Linked DNA regions of Homo sapiens: region 1 is linked to region 2. A link means that fine-mapping ties the variant in region 2 to the expression of a gene that starts in the linked region. Tissue or cell type: subcutaneous fat. Region 2 holds a variant in brackets; the other region holds the start of a gene. All regions are shown on one strand. Distances are from middle to middle.

Region 1 (5,373 bases), 38 kb before region 2:
TTCCAGCTCTCCAGCTGGGAAGCACCATCACCTACATCCTTCAGACAGATCACCCCCTGCCCCCGTACGAAAGCCCACGGGCCGTCGTGGCTGGAGGGGTGCTGACCCAGGGGCCGGCTGGCCCCGCCTCGTCCTGCACTGCCAGCCTCCTTCTTGGGACATCTTCCTGGGGATCCCCCTCAAGTCCCTTTCCAGAACACGTCCTTAGTCCAACGCACAGGTGCGTAAATGTCTGAACTCCAGTGATGAGGCCGCAACCTTTCCCACAGGATCCCTGGGCCCCATGCAAAAAAGGGTTTGGATGCACACGGGTCTCCACATCCAGAACATTCCATGATGGCCAAGGAGTGCAGGAACATGGAACATGCTAAGGCAGGGAGCCAGTCATTCAGGACACACAGATGACATCGGTGCAGGGGAGCAGGGCGGGGAGAGGGGATGCCAACCTGACACCCCGACGTCCAGCCCCAAATCCTATAAGGTCTGAATTTATACGGCGAGGGCGCAGAAACAGATCAAAACGTACCCGGAGTAGGTGAGGCTCGTTAAGAGTCGCCTCCTGAGCGTCTCTTCTGAAGCTTGCTTGCTGCCATCTTCCCACCACCCCATCCCGCTGGCCTGGGAGCGGGAGGACTCCAGTGTGGCCTTGGCCGGCTCCCCGCAGTGCTAGGCCCTCAGCTGGTGTTCGTTCTGTTAATGAAGCCCTTGCCTGCTGTCTCCCAGCTCCCCGTGCTCCCCAAGGGCAGGGTCCTTCTGCGCCCGCTGCTGTCCCCATGCATCATGGGCCACAGCACACAGGAGGCCCCGAGATGCCACCTGCCATCCTCCGCAGCTGTAGACCTTCCCTCCTGTGCACATGAGAAAGGTCAGCCTACCTGCTCACGGAAACCGCCGTTTGCTGGGTGTCTTTGACTCTCATCTTCTTAGAATTTCAGATAAACACGCTTCCTTCACAAATGCCGACGGTAAAGTGACGGTCACTCCACATAGCAAATGCAAGGTTGCCGTTAACGGGGTGCCCATCACCACCAGGACAAAGCTGCAGCATTTGGTAAACTTTCCTGCAGGCTCACAGAATGTCCTAGGTCCCCCCCAAGAGCTGGGAGGGGACAGTCATGTGAGGTGCCCACATCACAGACGTGGCAGGATGGGGCGTTCACACCAGCTCCTCTGCCACCATGGCTTGGGGACAACATGGCACCACTGCTGGAGGGACAGGCCTGCTCCTGACTCACTGTGTGGTCTTGGGCAAGTCACTTCACTCCTCTGACCTCACCTGGAAAACAAGGAGGGCTGAACTAGGTGTTCTCCAAGGTCCCTTCCAGCTCTAACATTTTGTGCCATTTTAGATTTTTCTAAGAGCCTGTCACTGAGAGGGGTTGAACAGCATCTTGCAAACATCGCTGCCTCTTCCTCCCCAATCTGCCAACCCTGGGGCCCCTGCCAGCTTCCCAGCAGCCCTCTCCCCTCCCTGGTGGCCACAGCCTTTCAGACAGGACAGGCAGATGGGGATTGGCCGCTCCCCATTTGGAAAGCCCCCTCAGTGACCTCCCTCGGCCTCCTGTCCCTGGCCACACTGCCCTTCTTTTGGTTGTTCAGCAGCCGTCTCTGCCTCACCAAGACTTACCGCCCAGGAGGGCTTAGCTTGGGCATCACGCCTCGGAAAAGGCCGTCTGTAGCCTGTAGTCTGAGTTAGGTCCTGGTGTCCCCTGCAGCCATTGCTGCACTCACCCAGACCAGCCTGGAAAGCGTGGAGGGAGGGCCTGGCTCTGGGTGGTCCCCACAGAACCCCAGGGCCAAGGGAGTCACGCCCTCAATGTGTGCAATGAAGGTGAACGCAGGAGCCAGAGGCCACCTCCCTCCTGTCTGCGTCTCTCCCTGTCTGGGGGATTCCTGAGGGGAGGACATTCCTCAGATCCTTCTCACTGGGGAGGTTCACCTCACCCTCCTTGGCCTCGAACCCCTCCTGAGCCCACCGTCTCCTCCCCAGGACCGCCTGATTTTGGGATCCAACAGCACCTACCTGTACGTGGGGTTTCCTTCGGAGTGGGGCAGTGAGGACCTGAGCAGGTTCGATTACGACTTCTTCCAGCTGGAGAGGGCGGCTGCGGAGGGAGCGAGTGCAGACAAACTCGGTGAGCCCCCTCCTGACTGCTGGCCTCTCCCGTGTGCTGATCTGAGAGCAGCGATTTCACACTGTGTCTCTCTGCTTTCCTTAAGAACATCATCATTTGTTTTGTCAAAGTCTGATGTTTACAAAATTGAATTATGATTTCCATATAGAGTGACTACATGGTAAACATTCAACTCGTTAAACGTTCCCTGAGGAATGAGGGTAAAGATGGTTCAAAGGGGTAGAGAAGAGAGTGGGGTACCCAGCAAATGAGAGAAGAATGCTGAGCTGGAGAAGCCAGTTAGTGGCCTCCGGCCGCCCCCAGGGGCCTGCTGGGCCTGCAGAAGCAGTGGCCCAACTCCAGAGGGGCCGGCTGGGGCCTGCTGTGGGCTGCAAATGCGCGGCCCGGAAGAACGTGCAGCCCGAGGCCTCTGAGACAGAATCTCCCCTCCTCGCCCGAACGCAGCCCCCAGCAGTAGCCCACGCGGGCCGCCCGCCGCTGCCGGTCTCTGCTGGGGCTTTCGCGCGCCTTCCCCGCCCCTCTCCCCGCCCCGATTCACCGCGCTCCGGGCGGCTCCCCCAGAATCCTGGCCAGGCCGGAGCCCGCTGCGATCTGAGTGACCTGCGGGCTTCCCGGAGGGGCCCCACGCTTTGCTCGGCACCGGGACTCTGCCTGAACTCGCAGTAATGAAACCGCTGGTGGAAAGTGGGCAGATCCACCTGTGTGTGTGCAAGAGCTCCTCCCTGTCCCCACACCACAGTGTTTCTCTCAGAATTTCAGCAAAATAAATCGATTAGAAATTCACCTCCTTGCTCTTCTTCTGCTGAAGTTTTCGACTTTTAAAAATGAACAAGGCCGGGCGCGGTGGCTCACGCCTGTAATCCCAGCCCTTTGAGAGGCCGAGGCGGGCAGATCACGAGGTCAGGAGATCGAGACCATCCTGGCTAACACAGTGAAACCCCGTCTCTACTAAAAATACAAAAAAGTAGCCGGATGTGATGGCACACACCTGTAGTCCCAGCTACTCAGGAGGCTGAGGCAGGAGAATTGCCTGAACCTGGGAGGAGGAGGTTGCAGTGAGCTGAGATCGTGCCACAGCACTCCAGCCTGGGTGACAGAGCGAGACTCCATTTCAAAACAAAACAAAACAAAACAAAACAACGAACCAGTAAGACTCTGTCATACCAGGCCCGGAAAAGCCATCTGTTCATTGACCTGTCCTCAGAGGTTGACCGTGCCACTGCCCCTGTGGCCCTGGTGGCGCCATGAAGCTGAACCAGCCCCAGACCCTGGCTCGGACCCTAGGGAAGACTTGGGTCCCCAACAAGGCAGCAGCTGTGTGAGCAGTTTGGGGTCAGACCTCAGGGCCAAGGGCACTGTGTGCACCCACAGGCCAGGGGTCTCTAAGAGTTGAGATTTCCTGATTAGAGGCAGTACCAGCCTGGGTTTGGGAGGGAGATTGATCCTCCCATAATCTCCACGAGCCCCTCCTTCAAGCCACCCCAAGTATAAGAGAAGCACAGGTCACTTGCTGTGCCAGCAGCAGCTTGAGGATACCTCCAGGCCTTCCGTCTAGCCAGCCATGTTTCACCTCGCCCCACCCTCCTCCAGTCTGGAGCCACCTTGGGTCAAGGACCCTGAGACCAAGAATGGGAACTGGGGGCAGAGGACCTCCTGCCTGCGGCCAGGATTCATGGGTCGAGATAAGCAACCACGTAAGGAGAAGCCAGGCAGTGTCATTTTCCCTTGTTTGTTTTTAAATTACATGCTTGTAATTTTAAAATGTAGATATTTGATGAACAGCTGAACAAATGAATGAACAAATAAGCATACACATTTATTCATGGCGGCTGGGCGTGGTGTCTCATGCCTGTAATCCTAGCACTTTGAGAGGCCAAGGCAGGAGGATCGCTTGAACCTGGGAGTTCAAGACCAGCCTGGGAAACAAAGTGAGACCTCATCTCTACAAAATATTTTAAAAATTAGCCAGGCATGGTGGCTTGCACCCGTAGTCCCAGGTACTCAGCAGGCTGAGATGGGAGGATTGCTTGAGTCTGGGAGGTGGAGGCTGCAATGAGCAGAGATCATGCCACTGAACGCTAGCCTGGACGACAGAGCAAGACAGCTGTCTAAAAAAAAAAGAAAAAGGGCTTGGCATGGTGGCTCATGCCTGTACGCCTGTAATTCCAGCACTTTTGGAGGCCGAGGTGGGCAGATCACCTGAGGTCAGGAGTTCGAGACCAGCCTGGCCAACATAGTGAAACCCCATCTCTACTAAAAATACAAAAATTAGCCGGGTGTGGTAGTGCGCACCTGTAATCCCAGCTACTCAGGAGGCTGAGGCAGGAGAATTGCTTCAACTTGGGAGGCAGAGGTTGCAGCGAGCCGAGATGGCGCCACTGCACTCCAGCCTGGGCAACGAGAGTGAAACTCTATTTCAAAAAAAAAAAAAAAAAAAAATTCTTCATGGCGGAACAAGTGACTGACTTTCGCCTCCACTGTGATTGTTGCCAGGTGCTGCGGACGGTGGAGACGGCAAGGCGGGCCCCAGTGTCCTGGCTGCGTTCCAGGACTACATCAAACTGATGCCGCTGGTTCAGAAGCAAATCAAATGAGTGAAGAGCCAAAGAAGGTAAGTTAGCTGGAGCCAGGAGCTGGTGTGCCAGGTGCAGAAAGGACCTCAAGGCCTTGTGGGGCAGGGGTGCGTTCCCAGGGACTCTCAGGGAACTAGCCACAGAAGCCAGACTGCCCAGCCCAGGCCCGAGTACCATTCCTTTCACCAACAGCCTACCAGGGCCACCGGGATCCCAGACCAACTCTTGCTGGCCATGAGCAGGCCCTCCCAGATGGTCCTGGGGCCTCTCCGGGTCTAGGCACCCTGATGGCTGCTGTGCCACACAGACCACCTGGGCTGGGGACAGCTCCCTGGAGACGTGAGCTCCCATCGGCCGGAACCTTGTAAGAGATTTAATCAATTTGGTAGGGACTCCAAGTGTTAGTTCCAGGATATAATGGAGAAAATCTGGTGCTCTGTCTTTCCTCTTAGTGGGAAATCCAAGGGGCAAGAGTGGGACATCTTAGAGAGAGTCTTATTCATTCATCATTTAGGAAGCCCGAGGGTGGGAGAATGAAAAATAAATTGCAAAGGTGGTATGAGCTGTGAATGTAGGATTTTTTTTTTCTTTTTGACAGGGTCTCAATCTGCCGCCCAGGCTGGAATGCAGTGGTGCAATCATGGTTTACTGCAACCTCCACTTCC
Region 2 (5,373 bases):
GACAAAGATAACAAGGATATTCCCCTTGAGTGCCCCCTAGGTCTCATGTTAAAATACTAGAAGGATAATGAAAGGACCAAAAACAAGAAAAAGCAGCTGCTGTCCCAGACCCTTCTCCTATCCCCATTGTCCCCCTCCTTATAACCCTGCCTCCTGGGAACTGTCCCAGGAGCCCACTCACTACGAGCGTTAAGTCCTCTTCCCTAAAAGGACTTCAGCGTGAGATAGAGCAATGTAAAAAGGATTTTCAGAACTTCCCTTTCCTCTCTTCTCGGGGGAAGAAAGAGCCACGATCCGTCGAACTGCTATGGGAGTCTTGGAACGTGAACACCCTTCTGGCCAAAACGTTCCTACAGCGGATCAAAAATTTCCCGCCCAAAACCTCAGGTGGGACAATAACAATGCAGCCCCTCAAGAAAATATGCAGGACCTTAGGGAATTGATAATAAAGGGGATTAAAGAATCAGTATCCCAGAATCTTACCCAAACATTTTATGTACAGCAAGGGAAAGATGAAGCACCTATAAAATTTTTTAGATTAAAGGAACAAATGAGAAAATATGCTGGTCTAGGTCTCGAGGATCCTCTTGGGCAGGGAATGTTAAAACTGCATTTTGTCACTAACAGTTGGCCAGATATTAATAAGAAATTACAAAAGATAGAGAACTGGAAAGATAAACCTATAGAAGAGCTTCTAAGAGAAGCCCAAAAAGTGTATGTAAGAAGAGATGAAGAAAAAAGCAGAAAGCAAAAATTCTGCTGTCTACCATACAACAAAGTACCCAGGGGGCCAGAACCTGTAAAGAACCTAGACCCCCACTCTCCAGGCAACATAAAGAGGATGAAAGAGTAAAGCCAGGAGACTCAAAGGTAGAGAAAAAAAATCCTAGAGGAGAAAGACTGACAGGGAACAGAAGGAGTCAAGGAGAGAGAAAGAGAGAGAGAGAGAGTCAAAGAAAAAGAGAGAGAGAGAAAGAGACAGAGAGGCAAAGAGAGAGAAAGAGACAGAGAGGCGGAGAGAGAGAGAGACAGAGACACAGACGAAGAGGCAAAGGGAGAGAAAGAGGACAAAACAAATGTTTCGAATTAAAAATAGGTCACTTCAAAAGACAATGTCCCAAATGGGAAAAAGAACAAAAGTCATATATAAAAGCAAATCAGTTCATATTAAATTTCTGTTAATTCCAGAGGCAGGAACAAACTTATCAGAGAGAGATTTAGTACTAAAATTTGGCTTACGCCTCTATATTGATTAGGGAAAATTCCTCCCCTCCCTAAACTTGCTCCCCACCGCAGACAAAGAACACATTCATCCCAAGGTATGGTCAAAAGACAGGAATCGAGGAAAGTTACAGATTCCTCCGATTCGTGTTAAATTAAAAAAATTAAAAACCCCTGGGGAAGTAGAAAAGAGAAAGCAATACCCTATTCCTTTAAAAGTGAGGGTAAATTTAAAACCTACAATTGATAATTGAAGGTCTTCTCTGTGACGGGCTGCTTAAACCCTGTATGTCTCCCTATAACACTCAAATTCTGCCTGTAAAGAAGCCAGATGGGTCATACTGGTTAGTGCAAGAACTTAGAGCTATTAATCAGATAGCCAAACAGACTACCGTTTCTTAGCTGTACAACTGGCCTGCTTTGCAGCTAGGGAAAACCTAGGACACATGGAGTTAAATGCTAGGAGAAGCCAGACCTCATCTGCACTTCTGTCTAGGTCCTAGGCTCTACACCTAGCACATAATTAAAATCCCAAACTTACAAGGTTTTCAACAAAAGTAAAGTTTGCTAAAAGTTAAGTCTAACATGTATGATCCTAACTTCTAATCTTGTGGCCTCAGGCAGTCTAGTCCACAGACATGAAGGCAGTGTGCTTTGGAAAAGAATGGTTATCATCTTTGACATTAAAAAAAAAGGAGAATTAGCCGGGCGCGGTGGCTCAGGCCTGTAATCCCAGCACTTTGGGAGGCCGAGGCGGGTGAAGCATGAGGTCAGGAGATGAGACCATCCTGGCTAACACGGTGAAAGCCCGTCTCTACTAAAAAAATACAAAAAAAAAAAA[AT/T]TAGCCGGGCGTGGTGGCGGGAGCCTGTAGCCCCAGCTACTCAGGAGGCTGAGGCAGGAGAATGGCATGAACCCGGGAGGCGAGCTTGCAGTGAGCTGAGACTGCGCCACTGCACTCCAGCCTGGGCGACAGAGCGAGACTCCATCTCAAAAAAAAAAAAAAAGGAGAATTTATGTAAAAAGAATCTTATATGGTAAATTCTTGTCCTAAAGTAAATTAACTGGTTGTTTAAAGAAAGGGATATTTACGACAAGTCAGAAAGTTAAGGCATGTCAAAGGTCGTCTGTGAAAGTCGTGAAAAATGTTATAAAAGGGAATTTATGCAAGAAATGTCATATAATTGAAAAGTAATTAGGCCTCCTGAATGTAAAACTATTGAAGAAACAGTTTATGTGCAAGGTGTGTAAGGAAAGTAAAATATACTTTTGGTAAAAGGATTATAAGGAGGCATAAGAATGTGGATTTTTACCTACATTAAAAGGTTAAAAATTGTTTTGAAGGTTTAAGCAAGGTTTGAAAAGTTAATTGTAAAGGAAATTCTGTGTGTAAACATATTGGTTAAAGTTTCTGTAAACTGGACATTAAAATAAAAGCACAACAGGTTTTTCTTAAAGTACTAACCTGTTCTTTAACAAAAATTATAAAGGGTTAAAAAGAGTCTATAAAAAACTTATGGTCAGACATTAAAATTGGATAAATATGTCTAAAAGGTTTTATTAAAATTGAGTTTAACATTAATAGCACACTAATAGAAAGGTGACATTTAGCTGATCTGCTAATTGTCAAATATAAAATGGCATTTGGGTTTCTTTGGTCTAAAAAATTAATAAAAACAGTTGCTAAAGAGAATTCTGAAGGAAAATGGATACTGCCAGACCAGAGAGAAATGTTATCCAAACCCCTTATGAGCGAAATGTTGTTCCAGCTGCGTCAAGGGACCCACTGGGGGCCCCACGCCATGTGTGACGCAGTCCTCAGAGTTTATGGGTGCACAGGAATTTATACCCCGGCCAAACGGGTTACAGACAGTTGCTCAGTATGTAAGAAAACCAATAAACAAACTATAAAAAGATTACCCCTTGGGGGAAGGAGTCCAGGCTTAAGGCCATTCCAAAGTATCCAGATTCATTACACAGAGATGCCTCCAATTGGTCGTCTAAAGTATTTATTAGTAATAATAGATCACCTTACTCGTTGGGTACAAACTATTCCCTTTTCAAGTACAACTGCTAGTAATGTAGTCAAGGCATTAGTTGAAAATATTATACCCAGGTTTAGATTAATAGAAAGCATTGACTCAGATAATAGGACTCATTTCACTGTACATGTCATTAAGAAATTAGCCCAGGTACTGGATATAACATGGGAATATCATACTCCCTGGCACCCACCTTCATCAGGAAGAGTGGAAAGAATGAACCAAACTCTAAAAAAGCCACCTAACCAAATTAGTCTAGAGACTCGGGTGCCATGGACTAGCTGCCATCCCATTGCCCTGCCTAGAATCTGAACTGCCCCTCGGAAAGATGTTCGCTTATCCCCTTACGAAGTGTTGTATAGGTTGCCCTGTTTGCACTCCACTGCTGACATTCCCACAGTCAAAACAAAAGATCAGTTCCTCAGAAATTGTATGTTTGGTTTATCTTCCACTTTCTCGTCCCTCAGAACTATAGGTCTTTCAGCACAGGTACCCCCCCGCTAGAGTTTCCAGTACACCAACATTAGCATGAGGACCGTGTCCTTGTCAAAAGCTAAAGGGAAGGAAAACTCGAACCCGCTTTCGAAGGACCCTACCTAGTGCTTCTAAGCACCAAGACCGCGGTTCGAACAGCAGAAAGAGGATGGACTCATTACACCTGGGTCCAAAGAGCACCACCCCCTCCAGAATCATGGACAGCTATTCCAGGGCCAACTCCAACCAAGCTAAAGCGAAAATGGGTTTGAACCTCCTATACTGCATCTCTTTCTTTTCCCCTTCTATTGCTAGTCCTCTCTTTACTAGTGTAACTAGGTCAAGTTCACCCCAAACCATTACTTTTGACGCTTGCCTTCTGATGCCCTGTGAAGATTTGTCAAACCAGAGGCAAATCTACACTTTAGAAAAGTATCTTTATCCTTCCTAGCTCTCCTCAGACTGGAAATCTGTTAACTGAGATAAGTTAGTTTGGGAGGACTTTGACAAAGAGTCCAGTATGAACTGGGAATCTTGTCCTCCTAGAGCAGAGCTTCTCTGCCGAAATTTGTCCGATGCTCTATAAAACACCAAAGAGCAAGGACGGACGGCCCCAACTAGTACTTGCAGCTTCTTAAAACCATACATTCATTTTACTAAAGGAGTTTCCCCTCCCCATGGTCAGCTGAACCAATGTAATCCAGCACAGATGACGACTGCTGCTCCCCAGAGTTCTTCCCCTTCATTAGGCCATTTCTGTGGTGTAGGAGAAGTCTCAGGGAAGGACCCCATAGGATCCTTTGAAATGTACTTCATTGCCTCCTCACATCCTGCACCCCCTTCTCCCTCGTCTAAGTTCTCCACTAACCAAACTTTCTCTCATTATATACCCAATGATAAAACCTATGTAGCTACTGTAGAGGTTAAAGATTTAAAACAAACTACAGCAATTGAAACAGGGTATCTGGATGCAAATGCTTGGCTGGAATGGATAAAATATTCTGTTTGCACGCTAAACAAAAGCGACGGTTATGCTTGTGCAACAGGCAGGCCAGATACCCAAACTGTCCCCTTTCCACCTGGGTGGTTCTCTCATGACTGGGCATGAGCTGTGTGGTAGCTCTCTTCCAGAACCCTACAGCCGAGGCGATGAGTCATGCAAGACTCTTTCACTGCTGTTCCCTGAGGTCAAGAGCCTTGTGGGTCAGCCCCCGAGGGCCATGTGGCCTCCAGCCTGATATTAACTTCACCTCGTGCCTTTCACGGCAGACGGAAAAGTTAGCATTCCTTGGAGACTTAACAGGGTGCAGTGAAACCAAGCCTTTTCCAGAGCTTACCCACCAGTCTGCCCTTGTTCATCCTCGAGCAGGTGCGTGGTGGTATTGCGGGGGACTATTGCTGGGTATTCTGCAAGTAATTAGAGCAGCACTTGTGCTCTAGTCCAGTTGGCCATCCCTTCCACCCTAGCATTCTGTCAACATGATAAAAAAGAAAATCATAAAAGAAGTGCCCCACATGGGTCCTTTGACCCCCATGTTTATATAAACGCTACTGGAGTTCCATGAGGAGAACCAGATGAATTTAAATCTCGAGATCAAATAGCTGCAGGATTTAAGTCAATATTTTTACAGGTGACAA

Alleles and levels. Positions count from the first base shown, and alleles are read on the strand shown. Sizes are in standard deviations (SD) of each study's normalised expression.
In carriers of allele T in region 2, the expression in subcutaneous fat of the gene that starts at base 2,105 in region 1 tends to be higher than with AT alone (moderate effect, 0.56 SD a copy in TwinsUK).

What was found.
Region 1: it holds the start of LINC01341, and the variant in region 2 is fine-mapped to the expression of LINC01341 in subcutaneous fat (TwinsUK, PIP 0.95).

The regions. Positions count from the first base shown.
Region 1 is chr1:246,786,349-246,791,721 of GRCh38, reverse strand. LINC01341 (long intergenic non-protein coding RNA 1341) reads right to left here and starts at 2,105. Exons shown (of 2, transcript NR_015422.1): 1 at 2,024-2,105; 2 at 236-1,276. RefSeq lists a silencer at 2,785-2,864.
Region 2 is chr1:246,748,630-246,754,002 of GRCh38, reverse strand. The region is part of intron 5 of SCCPDH (saccharopine dehydrogenase (putative)); the gene reads right to left. Among named protein-coding and RNA genes, the nearest start is that of SCCPDH, 27 kb to the right of the region's middle. The variant AT/T (reference allele first, on the strand shown) is at 2,063.